Linked DNA regions of Homo sapiens: region 1 is linked to region 2. Evidence: fine-mapped expression QTL. A gene starts in region 2. The other region holds a variant in brackets. All regions are shown on one strand. Distances are from middle to middle. Region 1 holds the start of MAP1LC3B2 (microtubule associated protein 1 light chain 3 beta 2). Region 2 holds the start of LINC00173 (long intergenic non-protein coding RNA 173).

Evidence for each region.
Region 1: its variant is fine-mapped to the expression of LINC00173 in cerebellum (GTEx, PIP above 0.99). The same link has a PIP of 0.9 or more in sun-exposed skin.

The regions. Positions count from the first base shown.
Region 1 is chr12:116,550,438-116,563,105 of GRCh38, reverse strand. It overlaps MAP1LC3B2 (microtubule associated protein 1 light chain 3 beta 2), which reads right to left and starts at 3,725. Exons shown (of 2, transcript NM_001085481.3): 1 at 3,673-3,725. RefSeq lists a silencer at 1,348-1,642 and enhancers at 1,348-1,642, 3,132-3,231, 3,272-3,321, 3,542-3,881, 3,721-4,230. The variant TAAATATGCATTTTAAA/A (reference allele first, on the strand shown) is at 7,162.
Region 2 is chr12:116,525,388-116,538,055 of GRCh38, reverse strand. LINC00173 (long intergenic non-protein coding RNA 173) reads right to left here and starts at 4,621. Exons shown (of 3, transcript NR_027346.1): 1 at 4,440-4,621; 2 at 1,845-1,936; 3 at 1,543-1,703. RefSeq lists enhancers at 442-671, 2,712-3,246, 9,061-10,260 and silencers at 4,655-4,704, 4,609-4,810.

The DNA.
Region 1 (12,668 bases), 25 kb before region 2:
CCTGTAATCCCAGCTACTCGAGAGGCTGAGGCAGAAGAATCGCTTGAACCTAGGAGGCAGGGGTTGTGGTAAGCCGAGATCGCGCCATTGCACTCTAGCCTGGACAACAAGAGCGAAACTCCATCTCAAATAAAATAAAATAAAATAAAGTTCTTGTTTGGGCTGAGCAAAAATAATACAGGGTGAAAACTCAGATTTATTTAAGAAATGAAGAATGCCAGAAATCATAAATAAGTGAGTAGATATAAAATGCTTCTGTATCTTTGAAATTTTTTCAAGTTTTGCCAAGTCAGACTTTCTAGGTGTTTTACAATCCAGAATCAAGACACAGAAACGAGGAGCTATATAGTATTTCAGATACCAGCTCATCTCTGAAGCAACTGTGAGAAAATGCCAACATCTGTCAGTTATGGAGAGCAAATACATAGTTAATTGTCATAGTCACTTTTGTAATCAGCTATACATTTGAAAGTTTAAAAAATACCAACTCTTTTATGGTACAGATTGGCCACTCAAAGCCTTGAGATTTATGTGACTTTCCCAAGGCATGCACCAAGCACATCATCGTTCTACCTTCCCAGGGCTACATGGATCAGACGACAGCCCTGGACTTACTAGTGATTTTATGCAAGTGATTAAGTTACTCTAAGCCTCAGTTTCTTCTCATAAAATAGGGATAAGAGGTCTACCTCCTGCTCAGATTATCACATAAGACACTGCATGAGTCAGGATGCCTTTGTTTACAAGTGATCAACTCAAACTGTCTTAAACATAAAGATTTATTGTTTCACGGAACTTGCGAGTTTGGAGCTACGGATGGTTTCAGGCACAGGTGGATCCAGGGATACAAATATTGTTGTCAGGACTCTCCCACTATCTTTTATCTCTGCTTTCTGGGGTTTTGGCATCGGTCTCAGGCAGCCTCTCCCTAGGTAGCAGCAGAGATGCTCCACGCTCATATCCCACCACATAGTGGAACCAAGAGAAAGTGAATTTCTTTTCCCTACGAGTTTCGGCAACTATTTGCTCTGATGGACCCACTTTGGATCACATTCCCATCCCTGAACTGAGCTGAGTCTGACTGGTCAGGTCTGGGTGATATACCCTCTCCTGGAATGAGGGGGTGGAAGAGAGATGGTCTCCCGAAGGCAAGCCAGGATGCTGAAGCAAAAGATAGTGTCATAGATGCTGACAGGGAAAAACAATAGCCTTACTACACTTGTGTAAAGCACTGGACAATAAGAAGCACAGAGTCCAGCCTCGTTCAAGAACAGCTTTGCATGTACTTGCTCCATCCTTACAACAACTGTGTAAGGGAAGTTTTCTAATTATCTCCATTGGACAGATGAGGAGACAGAGGCCCAGGGAGGGTAAATACCTTACCCCAGGCCACACAGCTAGTAAGGGGCAGAACCAGGATCCAGCTGCCTCAGTGAATGGCTAATGGCTGCTGGTTAATGAGGTCACACTCCTGGCCTGTGGCCAAGACTTATCTACAACCAGGGACCCTCGACTCCTCCCTTAGTCTCGGGAGTCCTCAAGGCCCCATCCTGCTTCCTGATCGTTATGAAGTCTGGGGAAAGGGAAACTCGGTGTCCACGCAAACAAGATGCTGTGAATGTTTTCAGCCCAGACAAGGGGAAGGAGATGGCCAGGGGAGGACCTGGTAAACAGAAGCCTGGGGTGGCTCTGTTAGTTTCTTATGAGTGCCCTAATATCCTTGGTTTGTAGCTGCAAAACTCCAATCCTCACTTCCAAGTTCCTCTGGGACTTCCTCTCTGTGTGTCTAATCTACCCATCTACCTCTGCCACACTTTTTTTTTTTTATTTTGAGACAGGGTCTCACTTGGTCACCCAGGCTGGAGTACAGTGGTGCCATCATAGCTCACTGCAGCCTCGAACTTCTGGGCTCAAGAGATCCTCCTGTCTCAGCCTCACAAGTAGCTGGGACCACAGGCACACACCACTGTCCCCCACAGCTTTTTTTCTGAGATGGAGTCGTGCTCTGTTGCCCAAGCTGGAGTACAGTGGCACAATCTCAGCTCACTGCAACCTCTGCTTCCCGGATTCAAGTGATTCTTGTGTCTCAGCCTCCCAAGTAGCGGGGACTACAGGCATACACTACCATGCCCAGCTAATTTTTGTAGTTTTAGTAGAGATGGGGTTAAGCCATATTGGGCAAGCTGGTCTTGAACTCCTGGCCTCAAGTGACCTGCCCACCTTGGACTCCCAAGGTGCTGGGATTAGAGGTGTAAGCCACTATGCCCAGCCTTTTTTTTTTTTTAAACTATTTGTAGAAACAGGGTCTCCCTATGTTGCCCAAGCTGGATCTGCCTTCCTTTTATAAGGATACCTGTCATTGGATTTGAGGTCCACCCAGGTAGTCTAGGATGATTCAATCTTGAGATCCTAAAATTAATTTACACCTGCAAAGATCCTTTCTCCATTAAGGTCACATTCACAGGTGCTGCAGCACATTAGACTGTGGACATATCTTTTCTTTTTTTGGTGGAGGTGTGACTGGGGAGACACTATTAAACCCACTACAGTGTAAAAGTAGGCCAGATGTGATGGTTCACACCTGTAATCCCAAGACTTTGGGAGGCCGAGGTGGGCGGATCACTTGAGGTCAGGAGTTCGAGACCAGCCTGGCCAACATGGCGAAACCTCGTCTCTACTAAAAATACAAAAATTAGCTGGGCGTGGTGGCGCACCTGTAATCCCAGCTAGTCGGAAGGCTGAGGCAGGAGAATCACTTGAACCCAGGAGGCAGAGGTTGCAGCGAGCCGAGAGCGCGCCACTGCATTCCAGCCTGGGCGACAGAGGAAGACTCTATCTAAATATATATATATACATATACATACATATATATATATATATATATATATATATATATATATATATATATATATATATAGCCAAACTTAGCTTTATTTCAGAGCCGTTGCTGGGCCTGGGAGTGGAGAGAGATCAGGAGAGCGCCACCAGCTTGGATCGGTTAGTGAGCTGCGGTGGTTTTTGTTTTTGTTTTTTTTTTCTTGACAGTGTCTCCTATTGTTTTGTATTTCTCTTTTGTTTTGAGGTTTTCTGCCATCTTTTCTGGAAGGTGCATGATGCTCAGCTCTGTGGTTATTTTTGCCCAACAGCTGTGTTTCCGGTGAGCGGCTGTGGGATTCTTCTGACTCAGCAAAACTGGAGCAGTAACCGTCAAGAAGCCATTCAAGCAAGGCTAGAAATAAAGAAGCTGTTTCTTCACCGTCCCCTCCTCCTCCTCTCACTTCCCTCCCCATGGGTACCTTTTGAAAGTCTCACAAAGCACTTTGAAAAAACTACTTGGACCAGTATGCTGGAGGGTTGACTGAAGGTGGCCCCTCCGCTGGGCTTTAAGCAAACAGATAAATTCTGGAAAGGACTCTGCCCTGCCAGCCTGGCTGTGGCCTTCGGAAGGCCCCTCCCAACATGCCCCCACCCGCCGATCACATGGACTGTGTCTTACAAGTTTCCCACAGGTCTGACTAGTGAAAGCAGAGGCTGTGGGGACTTTTGTGGTTTTTCTAGGGTGTGGCCCCACTTTGCCTTCACCAGGCCTGAGTATCTATGCCGTGCAGCTTGCCTGCTTCTCAAAGGTCATGATTTCCACCCTGGGGCTGGGAGGCAGCTACATATTCCTACCCGCTGGCACAGGATCTGGCCCTGCACTCCCGAGAGGTGGCTGCGAGCCTTGCGGAGGCAGAGAGAGAACAAAATGGAAAGGAATCTTCCTCCCGGAGAGCCATCTTCTGTGCATGCCGGTGCCTGCAAAAGACAGGCGAGGCGAGACAGCTGCACCTCGGGCCTCGTCGCTGTTGCTGAGAAAGAAAGGAACAAATAAATTTAGCTCCATCCTACGCATCCTTTGCAGCTGCTGATTGACCAAACAGAAAGAGGCCTCTATTTCAACCCTGGCTTCTCAGCTTTTTGCCTGATGGGGTCTGCTATCGCCCTTTACAAGGGACTTTTGAAGGAGGAAACGGGCCGTGGCCTTATTTAGCGCCTGGCCGGCTGGAGGCTGCACAGACAGGAGTTCAAGTTTAGGGTGTCTCTTCTTGCCCATCCCAAAGCAAAATGGTGGCCCGGAAACGTTTCCAAATGGGCTTCGGCTCCTGGAATTTCCAATGTATTTATTTGGAAGCCAGAACATGGTGGGTGGAGAGATGTGTAACTGTGCCGAGGCCAGCCTATAGCTCCCGAAGCCATTAGTTTAATAGCACCATTTGTGGAAATAAAGAACTCGCTGACTGGGCTTGAAGGTAAAAGACTGGAACGAAGCACTGAGGGGGTTTCGTGGGGCTCACTAGCGTGGAGAGGTCCCTGCGGGATGGGGGACAAGCTGTGTGGACTTTGAGTCAGATAGACTTGGGTTCCAGTCCTAGCTCTATCACCTAAAGGCACGTTGTCTCTGGACAAAGAGAGCCTTTGCTCTGTGATATGTAAGTGAAATGCTAGCTGTGACACTGAACCTCTCTGAGCCTCAGTTCCTTATCTGTAAAACAGCAATGATGACACGAGGTCGTCACAAGGATTAAATGACAAAGAATACTGAACCTACATAGCCCAGCTCTTGCTGTGCCATGATGGTGTAGAGTGGCCCCTGTTTGACCTGCCCAGGCCCATTCTCCAAAGAAGCTGTACAGGTGAGGTGGCTCACCCCTGTAATCCCAGTACTTTGGGAGGCCGAGAAGGGAGGATCACTTGAGCCCAGGAGTTTGAGGCCAGCCTGGGCAACATAGAGAGACCCCATCTCTGCAAAAAAATAAAAAAAATTAGCTGGGTGTGGCGGTGCACGCCTGTGGTCCCAGCTACACAGGAGGCTAAGGTGGGAGGATCCCTTGAGCCCAAGAGGTCCAGGCTGCAGCCTGGGTGACAGAGCAAGACCCTGTCTCTAAAAAAAAAAAAAAAAAAAAAAAATAGAAGGTGTTTCTTCCCCAATCCTCTCCTTTCATTTCCCTCCCCGTGAGTACTATTTGGAAGTCTCACACGGCACTTTTTAAAAACCACTTTAAGTCCGGGTGCAGTGGCTCATGCCTGTAATCCCAGTACTTTGGGAGGCCAGGGTGGGTGGATTACTTGAGATCAGGAGTTCAAAACCAGCCTGGCCAACATGGTGAAGCCTCATCTCTACCAAAAATACAAAAATTAGCGGGACACGGTGGCACATGCCTGTAGTCCCAGCTACTCAGGAGGCTGAGGCAGGAGAATCGCTTGAACCCGGGAGGTGGAGGTTGCAGTGAGCCGAGATTGTACTACTGCCCTCTAGTATGGGTGGCAGAGTGAGACCCTGTCTCAAACAATAACAACACTTTAACCAGTATCCGGGAGGGCTGCTGAAGGTGGCCTCTGCTAGGCTTTACACAAGCAGATGGGTTCTGGAAAGGACTCCACCAAACCAGCCTGGCTTTGCCTTTGGAAGGCCCCTCCCAAGATGCCCCCACTCGCCACTCACATGGACTGGGACTCTGTCTTACAAGTTTCCCACTGGCCTGAGCAGAAGGTGGGAGGAATTTCTGTGGTTTTCTAGGTTGGCCACAGAATACTACTCTTCCTCCTCCCACTCTTTTTTCCGTAAGATTTGGGGCTCAACTTACTCTCAAACTCTGGAAGTGAGGAGGTGGCCCAGGCCTGATCATGGGGTCTCATATGCCCCTGGCCATAGTGATTCATTTCTGGAAACATCCCTGGGACTCAAGCTGGGACAATCAGAGTGAATTTCAGGAATGTTGGATGAATCTCTTAGGAGGGAGGAAATCTTTCTGCTGGATTTCTAAAAGCTCAAGTTTTACACTCAGTGCTGCCATTGGCTCTCTTTGTATAATGGAAGGAAGAGTTGTTCAGAGAATGAAGCTAACAGAGATGAAACCAAAAATGGAGAGATCATATGCTGATGACCATTTGAGCCCCTTGATCCCGCCATGCCTGAAGCCATCACCCCTTCAACTTGCTAGTTATGTGAGTCAATATGGTTCCTTTTTGGTTTGACCTAGTCTGAATTAGGCTTTTGTCTCTTGCAGCTAGAAGAGTCCTAAGTCATACCAGCTTCATAAACCTTTGGAATCTGAATTTACCTGTGGCCTCATCCAGAACTGTGAGGCAGGCCGATGACACTCAGTGCCACCTGCAGTAGTGGAGAGTCTGTGGTGAGACTCTACCTTCTGGCACGCTGATTTCCCTTAGACCCCTCTTGTGGACAGGAAGGCAAAACAATGAGAGAAGGGAAAGAAAAAAGGGGGGAAAAAAAGGGAGCGGGTTTCCTAGTAAAGTAGATTGGGCTTGAATCTCTTCTTTGTCACTCATGAGCTCTGAGACCTTAGGCAAGTGACTAACTCCCTGGGGCCCCCATTTTCTCACCTGTGGGACTTGAGTTGCAGTGAGCATATATGGGTACTAGATTCTAAAGTCAAGGTGAAGGAAAACATTTCCGTGAAAATCCCTTAACTCCGCCCCCTTCCACAAGGTATGGCACAGCCACAAGTCAGCAAATTGTCGTAATGTCAGAGACTTGTGAACAAGAGCAACTCCATCTTGAATAGGAGCTGGGTAAAAAGGGCTGCATTCCCGATGATTAAGACATTCTAAGTCACAGGATGAGATAGGAGGTCAACAAAAGATACAGGTCATAAAGACCTTGCTGATAAAACAGGTTGCAGTAAGATGCCAGCTAAAACCCACCAAAACCAAGATGGTGACCAGAGTGACCTCTGGTCATCCTCACTGCTACACTCCCACCAGCACCATGACAGTTTACAAATGCCATGGCAACGTCAGGAGGTTACCCTATATGGTCTAAAAAGGGGAGGCATGAATAATCCACCCCTTGTTTAGCACATCATCAAGAAATAACCATAAAAATGGGCAACCAGCAGCCCTTGGGGCTGTTCTGCCTATGGAGTAGCCATTCTTTGATTCCTTTACTTTCTCAATAAACTTGCATTCACTTTATGGACTTGCCCTGAATTCTTTCTTGAGCAAGATCCAAGAATCCTCTCTTGGGGTCTGGATTGGGACCACTTTCCTGTAACAATAATACTATCATCATAATGCAGCCATTTACCCACCTCCCCATCCTCCCCATCCCCCACCTCCAATCCTGCTCCTTAGTTGAGCACCAATAAATATGCATTTTAA[TAAATATGCATTTTAAA/A]CTCTAGATGAGTGATTCTCAGCCAGGGTGATTTTGCCCCTCAGGGGATGTGTGGCAGCACCTGAAGACATTTTTGGTTGTCATAACTAGGGGTAGGAATAAACGCTCCTGGCATCTAGTGGATGGAGGCCAGAGATGCCTCGAAACATCCTCCAACACACTAGACAGTCCCCACAACTAATAATGATCCAACCCAGAATGTCAGTAGCGCCAAGGCTGAGAAATCCTCAGCTAGAATCCCACTCAGCACAGAGAGCTGCTCATTCTAGGAAAGGCTGCCAGGATTGGAGACAACGAGAACAGATCCATATATTCCATTTCCATGCTTCCCGTGTGGCAAGTTCGCACGGGGACACGACAGGTCTACCCCCTTTCAATGAGGATTTTTCTCCTTTCCTTTTGGCCAACTGCAGTTAGTTGAATTTATGTAAGTTTAATGCATGCATTATGTAAGTTAAATGCATGCATGGTATAAAAGTTAAATGCATGCATGCAATCCATGTGGCAATGCTGTTTCCACCTCACAGCATTACCCTGAGCATCAGAGGAGGTCTCAACAGAATGTGCTTTGCACAAGGTGAACCCTTAAGCCTTTGCACTGACTACTTTTATTAGTTTCACTTGGTGCATGCCACATGCACAGTACATACTCAATCCAGCCTTGCTGAATGGGCTTCAATTGATAGAGTTTTCTGGGCCTTGTGTGAGAGGAGGTAACAACTCCAAGGAGATCTGGATGCACAATTCTTTCTTTTTTTTTTTTTTTTTTTTTGAGATGGAGTCTCAACTCTGCCACCCAGGCTGAAGTGCAGTGGCACGATCTCAACTCACTGAAACCTCCGCCTCCTGGGTTCAAGTGATTCTCCTGCCTCAGCCTCCCAAGAAGCTGGGACTACAGGCGTGCGTCACCACACCCGGCTAATTATTATATATTTTTGGTAGAGACAGAGTTTCACCATGTTGGCAAGGATGGTCTTAAACTCCTGACCTCAAGTGATCCACTCACCTCAGCCTCCCAAAGTGCTGGGATTACAGGCACGAGCCACCGTGCCTGGCTTCGATGCACAGTTCTTGTCTGAACTTCCAGGCATCCTCCTTCTGCCACCTGCTTCAATAGCTGCCACCTTTCTAATGCTTTCTACAGCCCTTGGCCCCAACTGCAGAGAGCACAGGATCAATTGTGCTGGGAGATCACCCTCTGGGGCTCAGCTCCAGCTCCTGCGCTTGACTCTGATCCCATCACTTTACCTCCTTGGAGTCTCAGTTTCCCTGCCAGTAAAACAGTTCCTATTCCTACAGCTCTGTACAAGATTATGGGGCTCCTGCTGACTGTAAGCCCCATATCAAACTTAGAAACTGGCACCCCAGGGGTTCAGATGCAGCCTACAGCCTGAATCCATTTGGCTGACATGTTTTTCCTTATATATTTGAATTACATTTTCCAGTTTTTTAAAAATTGAGGTGAAATCGACATAATATAAAATTAAGCATTTTATTTATTACCTTTTTTTTTTTTTTCTCCCAATAGAGACAGGCTCTTGCTATGTTTCCCAGGCTGGTCTTGAACTGGCCTCAAGTGATCCTCCTGACTCAGCCTCCCAAAGTTCTGGGATAACAGGCATAAGCCACTGCACCTGGCAAAAATTAAGCATTGTTTGTTTGTTTTTGTTTTGTTTTTCTTTTTTTTTTTTTTTAAGACCAACTCTCACTCTGTCACCCAGGCTGGAGTGTAGTGACGCGATCTTGGCTCACTGCAACCTCCACCTCCTGGGTTCAAGAGATTTTCCTGCCTCAGCCTCCTGAGTAGCTGGGATTACAGGCATGTACCACCATGCCTGGCTAATTTTTGTATTTTTAGTAGAGATGGGGTTTCACCATGTTGGCCAGGCTGGTCTCAAACTCCTGACCTCAAGTGATCCTTCTGCCTCGGCCTCCCAAAGTTCTGGGATAACAGGCATGAGCCACTGTGCCTGGCAAAAATTCAGCATTTTAAAGTGAACAATTCAGTGGCATTTAGAATATTCACAATCTTGTGTAACCATCGCCTCTATCTGGTTCCAAAACACTTTCACTACTCCAAAAGGAAACCCATTACCCAGCACTTATTCACTCCCATACCCTCATCCCTCCAACTCCTGGCAACCCTCTCGTCAGCTGTCCGTCTATGGATTTGCCTATTCTGGACATTTCATATAAATGGAATCATACAATGTATGACTTTTAGTGTCTGGCTTCATTCACTTGGCATAACCTTTTCAAGATTCAGTTACATTGCAGCATACATGATGACAGACATTTGGGTTGTTTCCACCTCCTGGTGATCATGAACTGCGCTGCTAGGAACATGCATGTAGATGTACTTGTCTTCATGTAGAGTACCTGCTTTCAATTCTTTTGGGCATATACCTAGGAGTGGAATTGCTGGGTTATATGATAAGGCTATGTTTAACTTCCTGAGGAACCTCCAAACTTTTCCACAGTGAGTGGGTCACCTTACTTTCCTACCAGCAATGTACAAGGGTTCCAACTGCTCCACTTCCTCATCAAAATTTCGTATTTTCCATTCTATTTTATTATAGCTATCCTAGTGCGTGTGATGTGGTACCTCATTGTCGTTCAGTTAGATTTTACTATGTCAAATAAAAAGATTTCCAATAAAAATCCAGTTTCACAGTTTCTCTTGGAAAAGGAAGTATCTGTCAACATCGGGACCACATTCGGGCGGAGGCATCCTCTGAAGCTACCAGGCAGCAGCCCTCCCATGGAGCTGGGACGTCCCTTTCCTGTCCTCCCCAAGCCCTACCCCTCTGATGTCTCCCCCATGGCTGAGTTGGCTACCACTTCTCATCACACGCCGCTATTGTTTTTCTTAGAGAAGAAGCCAGCCCCCGTGTCTCCATCAAAAGGGAGGAAAAGAAATAGAGACTTGGGGGGGCCCTGGGTTTCTTAAATATAGAAAGGCCCATCATTATTTGTGGAAGTGTTTAGTATGCGCCTGGGTCATTCGCTCATTTCCGCCACCTGGTCCCTGTGGGCGTCTGAGTGGGTGACACACACACAGCCAGCCCTGTCCCCACTCCTTCCTCAGCGGGGCCATGCGGACCGTACCCTTCTCCTTCTCCCCAGGCGGATGCACTTGGTCCAGCCTGGGCTCTCCTGGGGGCTTATTAACCATCCGTTCCTTCTGCTCGGCCCTGCCTGCTTAATTCTTGACTTGCACAGCTCCAATTCCCCTCCACGTCTGGGCTTAGGGCGGTTTTCTCCGCACTCTTTCTTGAAGCTCAGCGTGGATCAAGGGGCCCTGCTGCGCATGCTCACAGAACCTGGACTCCGCCCAGCCCTGGGCGCCACTGTCACTCATTAATCCCTTTCCTGATTCCTCCCCTCTTTGCAAAATTTGGACCCCGGGTGGGCGCCTTCGTAGAATCACACTTCTCAGTTTATGCCACACATTCACTATTTGTCTGTTCAAGGCCCTCCTTGTGCCTTCTTGTATTATTTTTCGCCTGCGTCTGCTGTTAGCATTTCTCACTGCCTCCCACAGGCAGTGACTCCAGTATCTTCAAAATAAATCCTTCCAACCCACTTTCCAATGCTTATGAAACATATATAGTCTTGCTCTGTGAGTGTATATTTTAAATTTATGTCCATGGTATTGTGTCATCAATCTCAGTCTAGTTCCTACTTTTTTCATTTCACACTGTATTTTTAAGCTCTATCCATGATGATGTATGCAAATTCAGGGTATTGTGTATTATTTCATCATCTGCATGTTTCAAATCTGGCTGACTCATTTCCTCCAGTCATAGACATGTAGGTCACCTTGGGCTCCTTGCTGGGACAAACTTGGCCACCACCAACATTCTCACACACGTCCTCTTATGATCCTATTCAGGAGTTTCCCCAGGATACACACCCGGGAGAGGGGTTGCCATGTCACAGATTGTTATGGGTTGGATTGTGTCCCCTGCCAAAGATATGTTGACGTCCAAATTCCCAACACCTCAGAATGTGACTTTGTTGGGAAACAGGGTCATTGCAGATATAATTAGTTAAGAGGAGGTCATACTGGAGTAGAGTGGGCCCTTGATCCAATATGACTGGTGTCTTTCTAAGAAGAGGGAAAACAATGAGCGGACAGAGGCACACAGGGAGAAAGGCCATGTGGTGATGGAAGCAGAGAGTGAAGAGACACAGCTACAAGCCATGGAACACCAAGAATTTATGGCCACCATTGGAAGCTAGGAAGAAGCAAGGAAGGATTCTACCCAGGGACTTAGAGACAGCATGGCCCTTCTGGCCTGTATCTTAGGTCTGCATCTTTAAATTTCTCTGAACATCTGCAACTTAGAACTTTCTCTCAGTGATAAGTACTGGTAATGTGATTCATGTTCATATACAAACTATATTCACCCATTCATCTATCCATTCATCCATCCTTCTGTTCATCCATCCAGCCATTCCTTCCATTTTCATCCATCCATCTATCATGCATCATTTTATCCATCCATCCATCCATTCGTCTGTCCATCTATCCACCCATCCATCTGTTCATCCATCCATCTATCCATCCATCTATTCATCCAATCAGCCATCCCTCTATCATAACCATCTGTCTATCATCCACCCACTTACCCATCCATCATCCATCCATCTATCCCTCTGTCTATCCATCCATCTATTAATCTGTTAATCCATCCATTCATCTGTTCATCTATCCATCCATCCACTAATTCTACAAGTTCTTACTGAGTACCTGCTCGGTGCTGGAGCAGAACAAGATAAACAGGTCTTTGTCTTCATGGAACTCATCACTGGTAGGGAAGACAGACATTAAACTTAGTTAGGAGTTATGAGTAGGAATTAGTTATAGCCCATCACTGTGGCTCACTTTGAGGCCAGCCTCCATCAGTTTGCTAAGAAAGGGGCATACCAATATCCACTCCATAGAAGAGATGAACAATTATACAAGAGAATAATGTATAGAATGCCTAGAATGCCTCAAGACTCCCCCCAGAGGAAAAATAAAACAAAACAAAACAAAAACAAAAGTAATTGCATAAATCCATCCATTTTTGCCATTATTAAAAAAAATCCCACACGTTAGTAACTCAGGCAGCAAAAACAAAGGAAACGGCTCCACTTTGCATTTACCTGGTTCCAGTCTTTCTGGGAGACTAAAAGATGTAGAGGCTTCTCTCATTTATCCTAGAACATGGCTATGAAGTAGTAAAGGTGGATCATGACAGATGAGGCAGCAAAGAAGCCGAGAGGTCACGCCACCTCCCAAGGTCATGCAGCTAGATGGAGAAAGAGGCGAGGGTGGAAAACGGGCTTCATGTCTCTTGGTCCACTGCAAAACACATGATAGCCAGACCAGGGAGGAATCGCTTTTCTCCATAATTGGAAATACCACCGAGAGCTAATTTCTCCCCAGTAGATCCACAGGGCAGAGAAGAGCACTTGACCTAGAGTCTTGTTAGGAGGGTGG
Region 2 (12,668 bases):
ATTTTGCATATGCATTAGTGTTAAAGAAGGCAAAACAAAGATTGGTTAATATCAGTTCACTTTCTTTTCTAAATGAGAATGGAGGGGGAGTAAAAGTTAAATAAATGTCCATTACCAACGGGAATGGAGGAAACAGGAGGAGGCCACGTGCTGACCAGAAAATGGGGAGGGGTCTGATGGAGGCTGAGGTTCCCACAGTTCTGCAGATGGAGGCTGAGCCCGAGGGAAACCCCTCAGCCCCTATCAGCCCCCAGGTCCTTGAGGCCTGGGAAAACCAGAGGGACAACTGAGATAGATCTGTCTTAGGAGCAGAAGGTTCAGAGGCCCAGACCCTATAAATGTGGGTCATGCCCCAAAGAAGACACTGCAGCTCATGGCCAACTTGATGCATGGGGCCAGATCTTCCCTGGACAGACAAACTGGCCTTTTGTGGCCGAGAGAGCTGTTCCCGGGGATTGCCATCTTGGAAGGCCATTGTGGTCTGCTCAGGAACCCTTGAAATCGAAAGCCCTGCGCTCTCCTTGTCACAGCCGTCGCACATAAATACCACCAGGGGGGATTTCCCATGGAATTTTTTGCAACCACTCAAATGTTTCATTTCCCATTGTTTGCCAGTCCCTCTCAGAGCCTCAACTGTCAAAGCAGCAGCAAACACAGGCTGCTTTTCCCCCAGGATCCCATGGCGCTCGCTCTTGCGTCCCCTCCATGTTGGGAAGCTGGCATTGGCAGGATATCATCAGCTCAGGCCCGGGAATAAGGTCTGTTAGTCAACTAGTGAAGCAAGTCAGCGAAGGGAATACCCGGCCCTGCCCAGCCCATGCTTGCTGGGGAGGCACAGTTCTGTGCAGTCACCCTCGTTATAATTATCATCATGGTGACGAATAATTGCATTTATACAAAGAAATTCCTTCCACACATCTGAAGCACTTGACCAAAAAATACACAATGCAGCATTAATGTTTCACTTTTAGAATATGAACTTGGCCGGGTGCAGTGGCTCACCCGGGTGCAGTGATTAAATGCCTGTAATCCCAGCACTTTGGGAGGCTGAAGTGGGCAGATCACTTGAAGCCAGGAGTTCGAGACCAGTCTGGCCAACATGGCGAAAGCCCGTCCCTACTAAAAATACAAAAATTAGCCCGGGTGTGCTGGCTCTTGCCCAGCTACTTGGGAGGCTGAGGCATGAGTGAGAATCACTTGAACCCCAGAGGCAGAGGTTGCAGTGAGCCAAGATCGTGCCACTGCACTCCAGCCTGGGCGACAGAATGAGACTCTGTCTCAAAAAAAAATAAATAAATAAACTTGAATCACTTTTTTTCTTGACCCCAGGAGCTTTAATGGAATTCCAAGTTGTAGTCCATACATCAGTGCTGAGAAAAGATGATCCATGTCAACTGATTGATTGACGGATTGAAAAGCATTTGTTTTGAGGCAGGCACCGCACTGTGCATTTTGGGGACCCAAATATGAAAAAGACATAGCTGCCTGTGCATAGGAGCCAAATGGTCTAGAGAGAGGCAGAGATCACAAAGCAACATGGGATGCCAGAGTGACTGGGAGTTTATTTGGGGGATATTGATCTGAAGGGTGAATAGGAGTCTCCAGGCAGGCACATGGGTGGCCCATCACCAGTTCACGTGATCTGAGTACATGTAGGATAAATGACCCCAGGCAAGGCTGGGTGGATGTGGCACAGCCTGACCCTGTGGAGATGAGGAATAGTACGATATCCGTTAAATATCCATTCACTAGGGCCCATCCACTGCACCACAGATGTTGCCCTAGAATGGAGTTTAGCCATGTAGTCATTCATTCATTCATCCATTAAAGCCACAGATATTTACCGAGCACTCACGATGTGCCAAGGAAGACTAGGTGCTGGGGAGGCAGAGGTGATCAAGATCAATCTGGTATCTTTCCTTTTGGAGCTTCCATACTGGTGGAGCAGAGGGCCATTAAACAAATACACGTGTCAAATAATAAAGAAATATATAGTACAGGCTGGGCACGGTGGCTCAAGCCTGTAATCCCAGCACTTTGGGAGGCTGAGGTGGGTGGATCAGTTGAGGTCAGGAGTTCGAGACCAGCCTGGCCAACACGGTGAAAACCTGTCTCTACTAAAATTACAAAAATTAGCCAGGCATGGTGGTACGTGCCTGTAATCCCAGCTACTTGAGAGGCTGAGGCAGGAGAATTGCTTGAACCCAGGAGGTGGAGGTTGCAGTGAGCCAAGATCGTGCCACTGTACTCCATCCTGGGCAATAGAGCAAGACTCCATCTCAAAAAAAAAAAAAAAAAAAGGAACTATACAATACAATAAAAGACAACCTAATACACATAAAAGCATCTGCCTGCCCCTCAGTTTCTGAGCTCCCACTTGACACCAAGTGTTGTGGGGGTACAAATTTGGGTCAACATTTTGTGTAGCAGAACTCTGGGGACCAACCAGAACTCCTGAAAACAGGATGCCACTCAGCAGTGACAGCCTCACTTTCCCATTTACTGGGCTTTTTTTTTTTTTTTTTTTTTTTTTTAACATCTCTGGACACCTTGGATCCTGCCAGCAAGCCTCGGGAGGCAGTTTAGGAGTTATTTTCTTTACTTCTCAGGGGAGGAATCCGAGGCTTGGAGAGGAGGAGGGATTGACCGGCCTGGGGTCACACAGCTAGAAAGGCCAAGATTGCTATGCCGTTTTTTTTTTTTTTTTTTTTTTTTTACAAAGAAAGAACAGCGGAGCAAGGTGGCCATTTTATTTTCTCAAAGCCACACTACCTGCTGCTACACAGGACATAAAAGTGCAAAATTCCACCAGGAAGGGAAACAAAACAGTCTTGAGACAGCCATGTCTCAGAGGTGAAGATTGGAGGAGATTTTAATATAGGGTGTGAATTCCAATTCACATCTCTTCCAACGGGACCTCTTTCCGAAGTCCCGGGAACTAACATTCATCAACACCTCTGACATCCCAGAGGATCGCAACATTCCTGCCAAGGGTTATTACTCCCATTTCCCAGATGAAGAGATTGAGTCCCTGCAGCACGCAATTAGACAGTAGCAGAACCAGAATTTGAACTCTGATCCACCCCGATTCTGGGACCTGTGGAGCTCCAGGTACCGAGAGCTGGCTCTCGCCTGGGGCCTTGGAGTCTGGGTAGCTGGATGCTGGGAGAGGCTGCGGAGGTAAGGGCCCAGGGGCTGAGGTTGCAGCGGCTGCCCGGGAATGCGGCCCTTGCACGCCCACTTTTTAACACAGTGCCATCCCTGACAGACACCCTTGTCCTTTTCCTGTGCTGCCCTTCGTAACACCATAAATAAAGCCTTAGAGTAACGTGACCTGAGCCAGGCAGTAAATGATGGCACTGTCAGTTGTACACGACTGTTGAAACAAACACAGACTGTAATCATCGTGCTGTACGGGGAGAAAGACATTTGGCAAATGAGATTCCATTTTCACATTGGTTTGTGCTGAGCATATAAATTTCCTGCGGGCCGGCCAGCATTGGGGATGTGTAATTGATTGCCTGCATTATAATAAACAAGCTGTGACAGGTGATCATTCATCATATTCCGCTGAACGTTCCAGCACACCAGAAAACGGAGGAAGAGAGGGAACGCGCGAGCAAGGGGAGAGGAGAGGAGGAACCTGGGGGAGGGGAGGGGGTCGGAAAGACCGAGTATTCCCGACAGACAGAAAAACCAGGGGAGGGGCGGGGGAGGGAATCCGCTGAGCGGGCGGGGGAAAGTGAAAGCAATTACTATAATTCTTTTGATTATCTAATTTGTTCTTTCTGGCCTTCGTTATATGACCCTCCCCCCCTCCCCCCACTCCAACATAGAAGGTCCCCCACGGGGACTTGGGAAGGCACAGAGAACGCTCCCTCCACGATCGAGGGAAGGAAGGGGGGAGGCAGGTGGGGGAGGGGCCGCGTCTAGTTGTAACCGGAGTAGATACATTCGGGAAAACCTGGGGGGAGAAGGAGGAGGAGGAGGGGAGGAGCGTGTGCAGGACTTAGCTTTGCTCTTGCACTGAGATGCCTCCAGTCGGATGGATAGGAACCAGCCTCTTTAAATACATTTTTTTAAAGGGTGTCTGAAAAACAAGTGAAAAGTTCCTTTTATTGGAGAAAAAGGACAGCATCCAAGTTGGCATCAGATGTGGTTCCACAAGCCTGTCATATGGTGCTCTCATTCCTCCCCCTCGCTCCCTCCGCCCCGCCCCAGCTCCCACCTCCCCACCCCCACTGCAGCCCCAGCCTCTCTGTCTCTCTCTCTGTGCCCTTGGCCCGGGGCTGGGGGTCGAACAGCAACTGCTGGGAAGCACCCTCCTCTCCAGGAGCTCCCACCTAGACAGACAGAAGGCGGAGGTACACTGGCATATGAAGGACAGAAAGACAAATGCAGAGCTCTCGAGCCAGCACACGCATTAAATAAGTACTTACATTATGCAAAAGCCAAGGGCCTCAACAAGGGGGTGAATGAAGAAGGGGGACAAGGAGGGCTGCGTCCCAGACTAGTTTCCCCAGCTCTCACCCTGCCAATTTCCAGCCCCCGCCTCCCTATCCCGCAAGCGTCCTCCCATTCCCTCCCTGGTACCAAGCGCTTAGAGCAGGTGGGAGCCTCGGACCCAGAAGGCTGGGAGCTGAGGAGGCGTGGCTTGCGCTAACATCGGGGGCGGGGCCTGGCTGGGGCTTAGTCGGGGCGGGGCCCACGCCGGAGGGGGCGGGGCGAGCACAGAAGAAAGAGCGTTAGGGGCTCCTTTGCCACTCGTTGCACGCTGCTTCCCAGAGTCTTCTGCTATTTCATCGTAGCCTTAACAACTGGAATCTGTCGCCTTCGAGATGTTCCTAAAGTCACTGCTTTGGGAGAATCTGTTCAAGGGACCTGCTTTCCAAAAGCAATGACATCAGCCCAGCAACGTGATCTGTGTTGTCCTTGAAGGATTAACAACTCATTTGGGTCTCCCAAGAGCCCTAGGAGGTAGCCAGGGCAGGTGCTGTTGTCCCCGTCTCACAACGACCTATGAAGTGCATGTTGGGGCCTTGATTTTACAGGGGAAGGAACACAGGCACAAAGAAACGAAGTTACTCTCTCGGGATCTGGCAATGAAAAAGTCAAAATTTGAAGCCAGGGGTCTTCTGACCTGTTCTTCAGCATCCCTATGAGAACATATACTTTCTCCCTCCAACACTCTCCTCCCATCCATAAGTGCATACAGGTGCTGAATAGGAGGGGCAGAGTTGAGTCTATATTGAATGATTGTGCATCCAGATCCTCACTAAGCCCTCTTGGTTTTGCCTGACACACGTGGCTCACTGTGTGCCCCCTGGTCCAGGCCACCTGCATCTTCCTCCTGGACCACTGTCCCCGCCTCATCACTGGCCTTCCTCTTAATGCTGTTCTCACTCCCATCCACTACCCACCAGCAGCCATGATGATCAATGATGGTCACCATCCATACCCTGTATCAACTGTCTCTCTAGCGCCATCTTTTTTTTTTTTTTTTTTTTTTTTTTAAAGACATGGTCTCCCTCTGTTGCCCAGGCTGGAGTGCAGCAGTGTGATCGTAGCTCACTGCAGCCTTGAATTCCTGGACACAAGCAATCCTCCTGCCTCAGCTTCTTGAGTAGCTGGGACCACAGGTGCTTGCCCCCATGCCCAGCTAATTTTTATTTTTATTTCTGTAGAGATCAAATCTCATCATGTTGCCCAGACTAGTCTTGAACTCCTGGCCTCAAGCTTCCCCAGTTGCTGGGGATTACAGGTGTGAGCTGCCACACCTCTTGCCTTAGCTTCCCCAGTTGCTGGGATTACAGGTGTGAGCTGCCACCATCTTTTTTTTTTTTTTATTTGTTTGTTTTGTTTTGTTTTTTGGAGGCAGAGTCTCATTCTGTCATCCAGGATGGAGTGCAGTGGCATGATCTTGGCTCACTGTAACCTCTGTCTCCCAGGTTCAAGTGATTCTCCTGCCTCAGCCTCCCGAGTAGCTGGGATTACAGGTGCCTGCCACCACGCCTGGCTAATTTTTGTATTTTTAGTAGAGACAGGGTTTCACCATGTTGGCCAAGCTGGTCTTGAACTCCTGACCTCAGGTGATCCACCCACCTTGGCCTCCCAGACTGCTGGGATTACAGGGGTGAGCCACCATGCCTGGCCAGGTCCAGAAGTTTTCCATCACCCCAAACAGAATCTCGGTACCCATTAGCAGTCACTTCCCATTCTTCCCTCCCGTTGGCCCCTGGCAGCTGCCAATCTGCTCTCTGTCTCTATGGATTGCCTGTTCTGGATATTTCATGTAAGTGGAATCCTACGATATATAATCTTTGTGTCTGCTTCTCCCACTCAGCATCATGTGTTCAAGGCTCATCCATGCTGTAGCGCATGCCAGTGCTTCCTTTCTTCTTATGGCTCAGTGCTGTTCCATTGCCTGGATGGACCACATTTTGTTGATCCATTCACTGGCTAGGGGTCATTTGGGTTGTTTCCACCTTTTGGCTATTGTGAATAGTGCTCTATGAACAATTGTGGGTAAGTTTTCATTTGAATATTTGCATTTATTTATTTGTTTATTTATCTATCTATCTATTTATGTTTTGGAGACAGAGTCTCCCTCTGTTCCCCAGGCTGGAATTCAGTGGCGCAATCTCGGCTCACTGCAACCTCTGCCTCCCGGGTTCAAGCGATTCTCCTGCCTCAGCCCCCCGAGTAGCTGGGATTACAGGAGTGCGCCATCACGCCTGGCTAATTTTTGTATTTTCGGTAGAGAAGGGGTTTTGTCACGTTGGCCAGGCTGGTCTCGAACTCCTGACCTCAGTCAGGACCTCAACTCCTGATTCCCCTGCCTTGGCCTCCCAAAGTGCTGGGATTACAGGTGTGAGCCACCGCGCCTGGCCTGAACCTTTGTTTTCAATTGTTTGGGGTACATACTTAGGAATGGAACTGCTAGGTTCTGCAGTAACTCTGTGTTTAGCTTGTCAAAGAACCGCCACACTATTTTCCTCAGTGACTGCCCATTTTACATTTTCACCAGCAGTGCACCAGGGCTCCAATTTTTTACATCCTTGCCAACCAACACTTGTTATTTTCTGTTAAAAAAAAAAGTTTGCGCCGGGCACAGTGGCTCACGCCTGTAATCCCAGCACTCTGGGAGGCCAAGCGGGGTGGATTGCCTGAGGTCAGGAGTTCGAGACCAGCTTGACCAATATGGTGAAGCCCCGTCTTTACTAAAAATACAAAAATTAGCTGGGCGTGGTAGCGTGTGCCTGTAGTCCCAGCTACTTGGGAGGCTGAGGCAGGAGAATTTGCTTGACCCTGGGAGATGGAGATTGCAGTGAGCCGAGATTGTGCCACTGCACTCCAGCCTGGGCAACAGAGCAACACTCTGTCTCAAAATAATAGTAACAATAATAATGTTTGCCATCCCAGTGGGTGTGCCTAGCTCCATCTTTTAGATGAGATGGGGTGAGTTCAGGGTCCATATGGCCATAGACTAGATCCATCTTATACTTCTCTCCCCTTCCTTCTTGCTACTCTGGACTTTCATATCCCCAAATTGCCCCTCCGTCCTACCATGGACCTTGGCTTACGCAGTGCCTTCCTCCTTCCCATCCTCCCACTGGGTTCTGTCCACTTGTACCCCAAGGCTACCTCAGATCCTCCTCTGACAATGATCTGTCCCCCAGCCTTCCTTTCACAGCTCCGAATTTGGTTGTAATTTTACATTTCCTTTTGCAATTACTGATTAATGTCCATCTTCTTGACCTGACTACAGCCTTCCCCTAGGAAGGGACCATTCTGCTTTTGCCACCCACTGTGTCCCCAGCACTTAGCACAGTCCCTGGTAGAGACTTTGGGGAGTGCAGTGACACAATCATAGCTACTGCAGCCTTGACCTCCGGGGCTCATAACATCTTCCCCCCTCAGCCTCCCAAGTAGCTGGGACTACAGGAACACACGACCATGCTTGGTTAATTTATTTTTATTTTAATTTTTTTGTAGAGATGGAGTCTCACTATGTTGCCCAGACTGGTCTGGTACTCCTAACCTCAAGCAGTCCTCCTGCCTCAACCTCCCAAAGCACTGGGATTACAGGCCTGAGCCACCGCACCCAGCCCCAGTTCTAAGATGTTAACCACATGTAAGCCTCGGGGAGAATCTCAGGCCCTGGCCCACTTCAATAAATATTTGGTGAATTAATGCATAAGCAATGAATGAGATCCAAGTGTGGATCCTATGACCTTATGAATTTTCCTTTTCTTTTTTTCACTGATCAGTGGCACTAGCAGGCCTCAATAAGTTAGGAACTAAAAAACCTGCTTCAGGCTGGGCACTGTGGCTCATGCCTGTAATCCTAGCACTTTGGGAATCCAAGGTGGGTGGATCACCTGAGGTCAAGAGTTCAAGACCAGCCTGGCCAACATGGTGAAATCTCATCTCTACTAAAAATACAAAAATTAGCTGGGCGTGATGGTGGGCACCTGTAGTCCCAGCTACTCAGGAGGCTGAGGCAGGAGAATCACTTGAACCCGGGAGATGGAGGTTGCAGTGAGCCGAGATTGCACCATTGCACTCCAGCCTGGGCGACAGAGCAAAAACTCTGTCTCAAAAACAAAAAAACCTGCTTCAGCCATAAGGAATTTGGAAACGGATGGCATTCTAATTGCAGAATTAATACTCACTAATGTCTCCCTCTGGAACCAGGGTGAATCTGGCACCGGATTCTGAGTCTTGCTTGGGAATTGTGTTGATTCTGCCTTGCAGTGCTGCTGAAACTCTAGGAACCTTGAAATATATTTGCTTGGTGTAAACATGACCTCAGCGTGACAGGATGATCCTTGTGTTTGCCAAGCCATTAATTTTTATGTGATAACGACGACCACAACAAACTGCTTTTCGCCCACATTTTGAGTTGTTCTTAAGGTCAGGTCTGTGGGATTGTGTGAGACAAAAACCTTATAAACTAGAATGTAGCGGTGAGTTCTCTGTGTTTACAGCCCTGCTCCTACACACGGCTCCAAAGAGCTGAAAATAGAGGATTAAAAATTCATGCAGCTACTTTCTTCCAAGGAACTCCAAATGCTTCTGACAATCTTTATCCTGCAAAGTCATGAGTGGTCAGATGCCCATCCCAAGGACAGGGAAACAGAGGCCCAGAGATAATGACGGGACTTTGCCAGGCCCCTCTACCCCTGCTAATGGAGCAACAGGCTCAGATGAAGAGCCCCTCCCACCTATGTTTCTAGCCCATGCACTCTCCATTAGCCTGATTAAGACAATTGATTTATTCATTCTTAGTGGTTGAGATGGAAAAAAAAAAAAGAAACCAACATGCCATTTGTGTGATATAAATATCTCTGGAAAAAGCTAAAAAACATTGTGTCATACATATTTTCTTAATACCACAGTCAATCACATGTGTCTGTCCAAGTGCCATAGTCCATCAACCCAAGAGTGGGGGATGGGGGTGTTTGGGGGTGGGGATAATGGAGGGGACAGACTCAGCAGAGTCTCAGCTCCAGAATCCTCAGCCACTGCATGGCAAATGTTGCCACTGACTAAAGCTATGCTGGCTGTTCATTTTCCATTACCTATTGCCTTTGAAGAACCTTCTAGAAGTCTTAGAAACTTGATGTTGGGCAGAAAAATGATAGGCAGGGATGCAAAGGTGCTGGGACACCCACTCAACCGGCCAGTTCCCAAAGAAAAAGATGGAGGTTGTCACTTTCTCACTCAGTGTGCCCCATGGACTCACAGAAGGATTTAGATCACAGCGTGGTTCCTCTTCCTCCAACCCTACACCCCCATCATCAAAGAGCCTTTAATCCTGATGATTCACCTGTTAGGAATTTAGCCCAAGGAAATAATTAAAGACATATAAAAAGATTTAGTTACAGGATGTTCGTCATGACATGTAGATTACGGTGAAAGATTAGAAGCAACCTCCATGTCCAACCAACCAAAGGTGATGGCTATGTAAGTTGTGGAGTTCCTCCTTTAAAATTCTGCTCAGATCTCCAAAGAAAAAAGACTGGAAGGAAATTAACCAAGAGAATCACAGAGTTTGTTTTGAGTCTGGAAATATGAGTAAATTTTTTTTTTCCTGGAGTAAGTCCTTGTTTTGGATGTTCTATTCAAAACCAACTTAAATTTGGCTCCAATTGGAAACTTTATGACATCAGGAGGATTGAGATATCATAAAAGGAACAGGAAGGGGCACTCCATGAGGGAACCACATGTAAAGGTCTGAAGGGAAGTCGGGGCAGAGAGGAAACAGCCTCGCTGGAATGGAGGATTTCCACTGCTGTGTGCTGGGATGCATGTCAGAGAGATTTGTAGGCTGTGCACAGACTGTGTATTTTTTGAAAGCCAAGGAGAGGAAGGCACATTAGATATGATAGGCAACTGGGAGCCAGTATAGATTCTTGAACAAGAAAAGACAAATCCAGTTCCAAGGGAGACTAAGAAGAGACAGTCCAAGAAGAGAAAGTGCAGGGGACGAATCTGGTGGTGTCATAATTCTTTTATGGAAGGATCTGACTTTATTGGTTTTAGGGGTAAATGTTTCTGGAGAATCCTAGAACTCTAAATCTGCAAGAAATCTTGAGGTTGCTCTCGTTTTAGGGATAGAACAACCGCAGTCCAAAGAGTTACATCTTCCAGTCATAAGGCAAAATGGCAGCCAAGTTGGTACTGATCACTATCAGTCCTTATTCCTACCCGAGACCAGCTTGTCTCTCTGTTGCCTTCCATCCCAATTCTAAGATTTTTTTTATTTTTCCAGAGACAGGGTCTTGCTTTGTCACACAGGCTGGAGTGCATGGGCACAATCATAGCTCACTGCAGCCTTGAAGTCCTGGGCTCGTGGCATCCTCCCACCTCAGCCTCCCAAGTAGCTGGGACTACAGGAACACATAACCATGCCTGGCTAATTCATTTTATTTTATTTTTATAATTTTGTAGGGACAGAGTCTCACTCTGTTGCCTAGGCTGGTCTGAAACTCCTTGCCTCAAGCAGTCCTCCTGCCTCAACCTCCCAAAGCACTGGGATTACAGTCCTGAGCCGCTGCACCTGGCCCCAATTCTAAGATGTTAACCACATGTAAGCCTTCCAGGAGAACCTCAGACCCTGGTCCACTTCCTGGAGTCCCACCTAAAACTCCATTTTTCCATTCATTTATTTATTCATGTAACACTGAGACCCGAACATTCAAAGACAGACATGCTAATAGTTAGGGTGGAGTGGAAGGGAGATAATGATGGCACACAGTAGGTGTTCAATAAATATTTGTGGAAAGAAAGAGTCAAGGAGGGAAGAAGAGTCCCTGCCCTCAAATAGCTCAAAATGTAATTTGAGAACAGACACAAGTGTTTATATGGGATGCAAGCCGTGCTTTCAGAGGGATATGAGCCCAGGTTCTGCAGGCCCAGGCAAGACACTTCACAGAACCAAACAAAAAAAGTTGACTTTCAACTTCTTTTATTTATTATTATTATGATTTGAGACAGAGTCTTGCTCTGTTACCCAGGCTGGAGTACAGTGCCACGATCTTGGCTCACTGCAACCTCTGCCTCCTGCGTTCAAACTATCCTCCCACCTCAGCCTCCATGTAGCTGGGATTACAGGTGTGCACCATGACACCCGGCTAATTTTTGTATTTTTAGTTGTGGCAGGGGTTTCACCATGTTGGCCAGGCTGGTGTCGAACTCCTGACCTCAAGTGATCTGCCTGCTTCGGCCTCCCAAAGTGCTGGGATTACAGGCATGAGCCACCGTGCCTGGCCCCAACTTCTTTTATAAAAAAGTATTTAACTCAACTAACATTTATGGAGCCCCTACCATGGGCCGGATTGGGGATTAAAATTTCTGCTTTTTCCCCATGGGTTATGCATTAAATCCAAAATGGGTAGGCGATCCCTAGAGAAAAGACAGAGAAGGAGAAAGGAAGAAGGAGGAAAAAATACAAAGTCGTCAGGCTCCCAGAAAAAACAGATGATGCTAGTTTCTCTGAACAATTTTGGACTTCTTTTTCCAACTCCAGCCACCTCATTTGCTTTTCCTTTTGCCCATGGACTCCAAGGTCCGTGGCTCTGGTCTACGGGGGAAGGGCCAGGCATGAGCTACATGGAATCAGACACCCAGAGGCCTCCTCTCCATCTCCCTTTTCCAGTTATTCAGCGTCCTCAGGCCATTTCAATTTTACGTTGCCAAGTGAACATAAATCAAGGGGCCGCCCAGTCTCCTAAAGAAACACTGTGGGACTTCGCAGAGCCTTTCCCAGGGTGTGCACCGGGAAAGAAGGAGAAAGAGGACTAAGCAGAAAGTTACATGTGGCTCCTTTAATCACCAGGTAGAAAGAGAGAGGAGAAAGTTCAAACAGAGCCCCTGCAAGCGGCGCCGGGAAGCCAGCTCTGAGCTCCACTGTTCAAGCAACTGCTGTTGGCATCACAGAGGTTTGTCTTGGCCCAAACCCGTCCCGGGAAACACAGAGACGCTCATGCACTTGGAATTCGCTCCCTTAATGATTCACTCAGCAACTCGGCACAATTACAAAAAGAAGGTGAAAGAAAGGAAGGGAGAAAAGAAGAAAAGAAAAAGAGAGAAGGAAGGAAGGAAGGAAGAGAGGGAGGGAGGGAGGGAAAGAGGGAAGGGATAGAGGGGAGGGACTGAGGGAG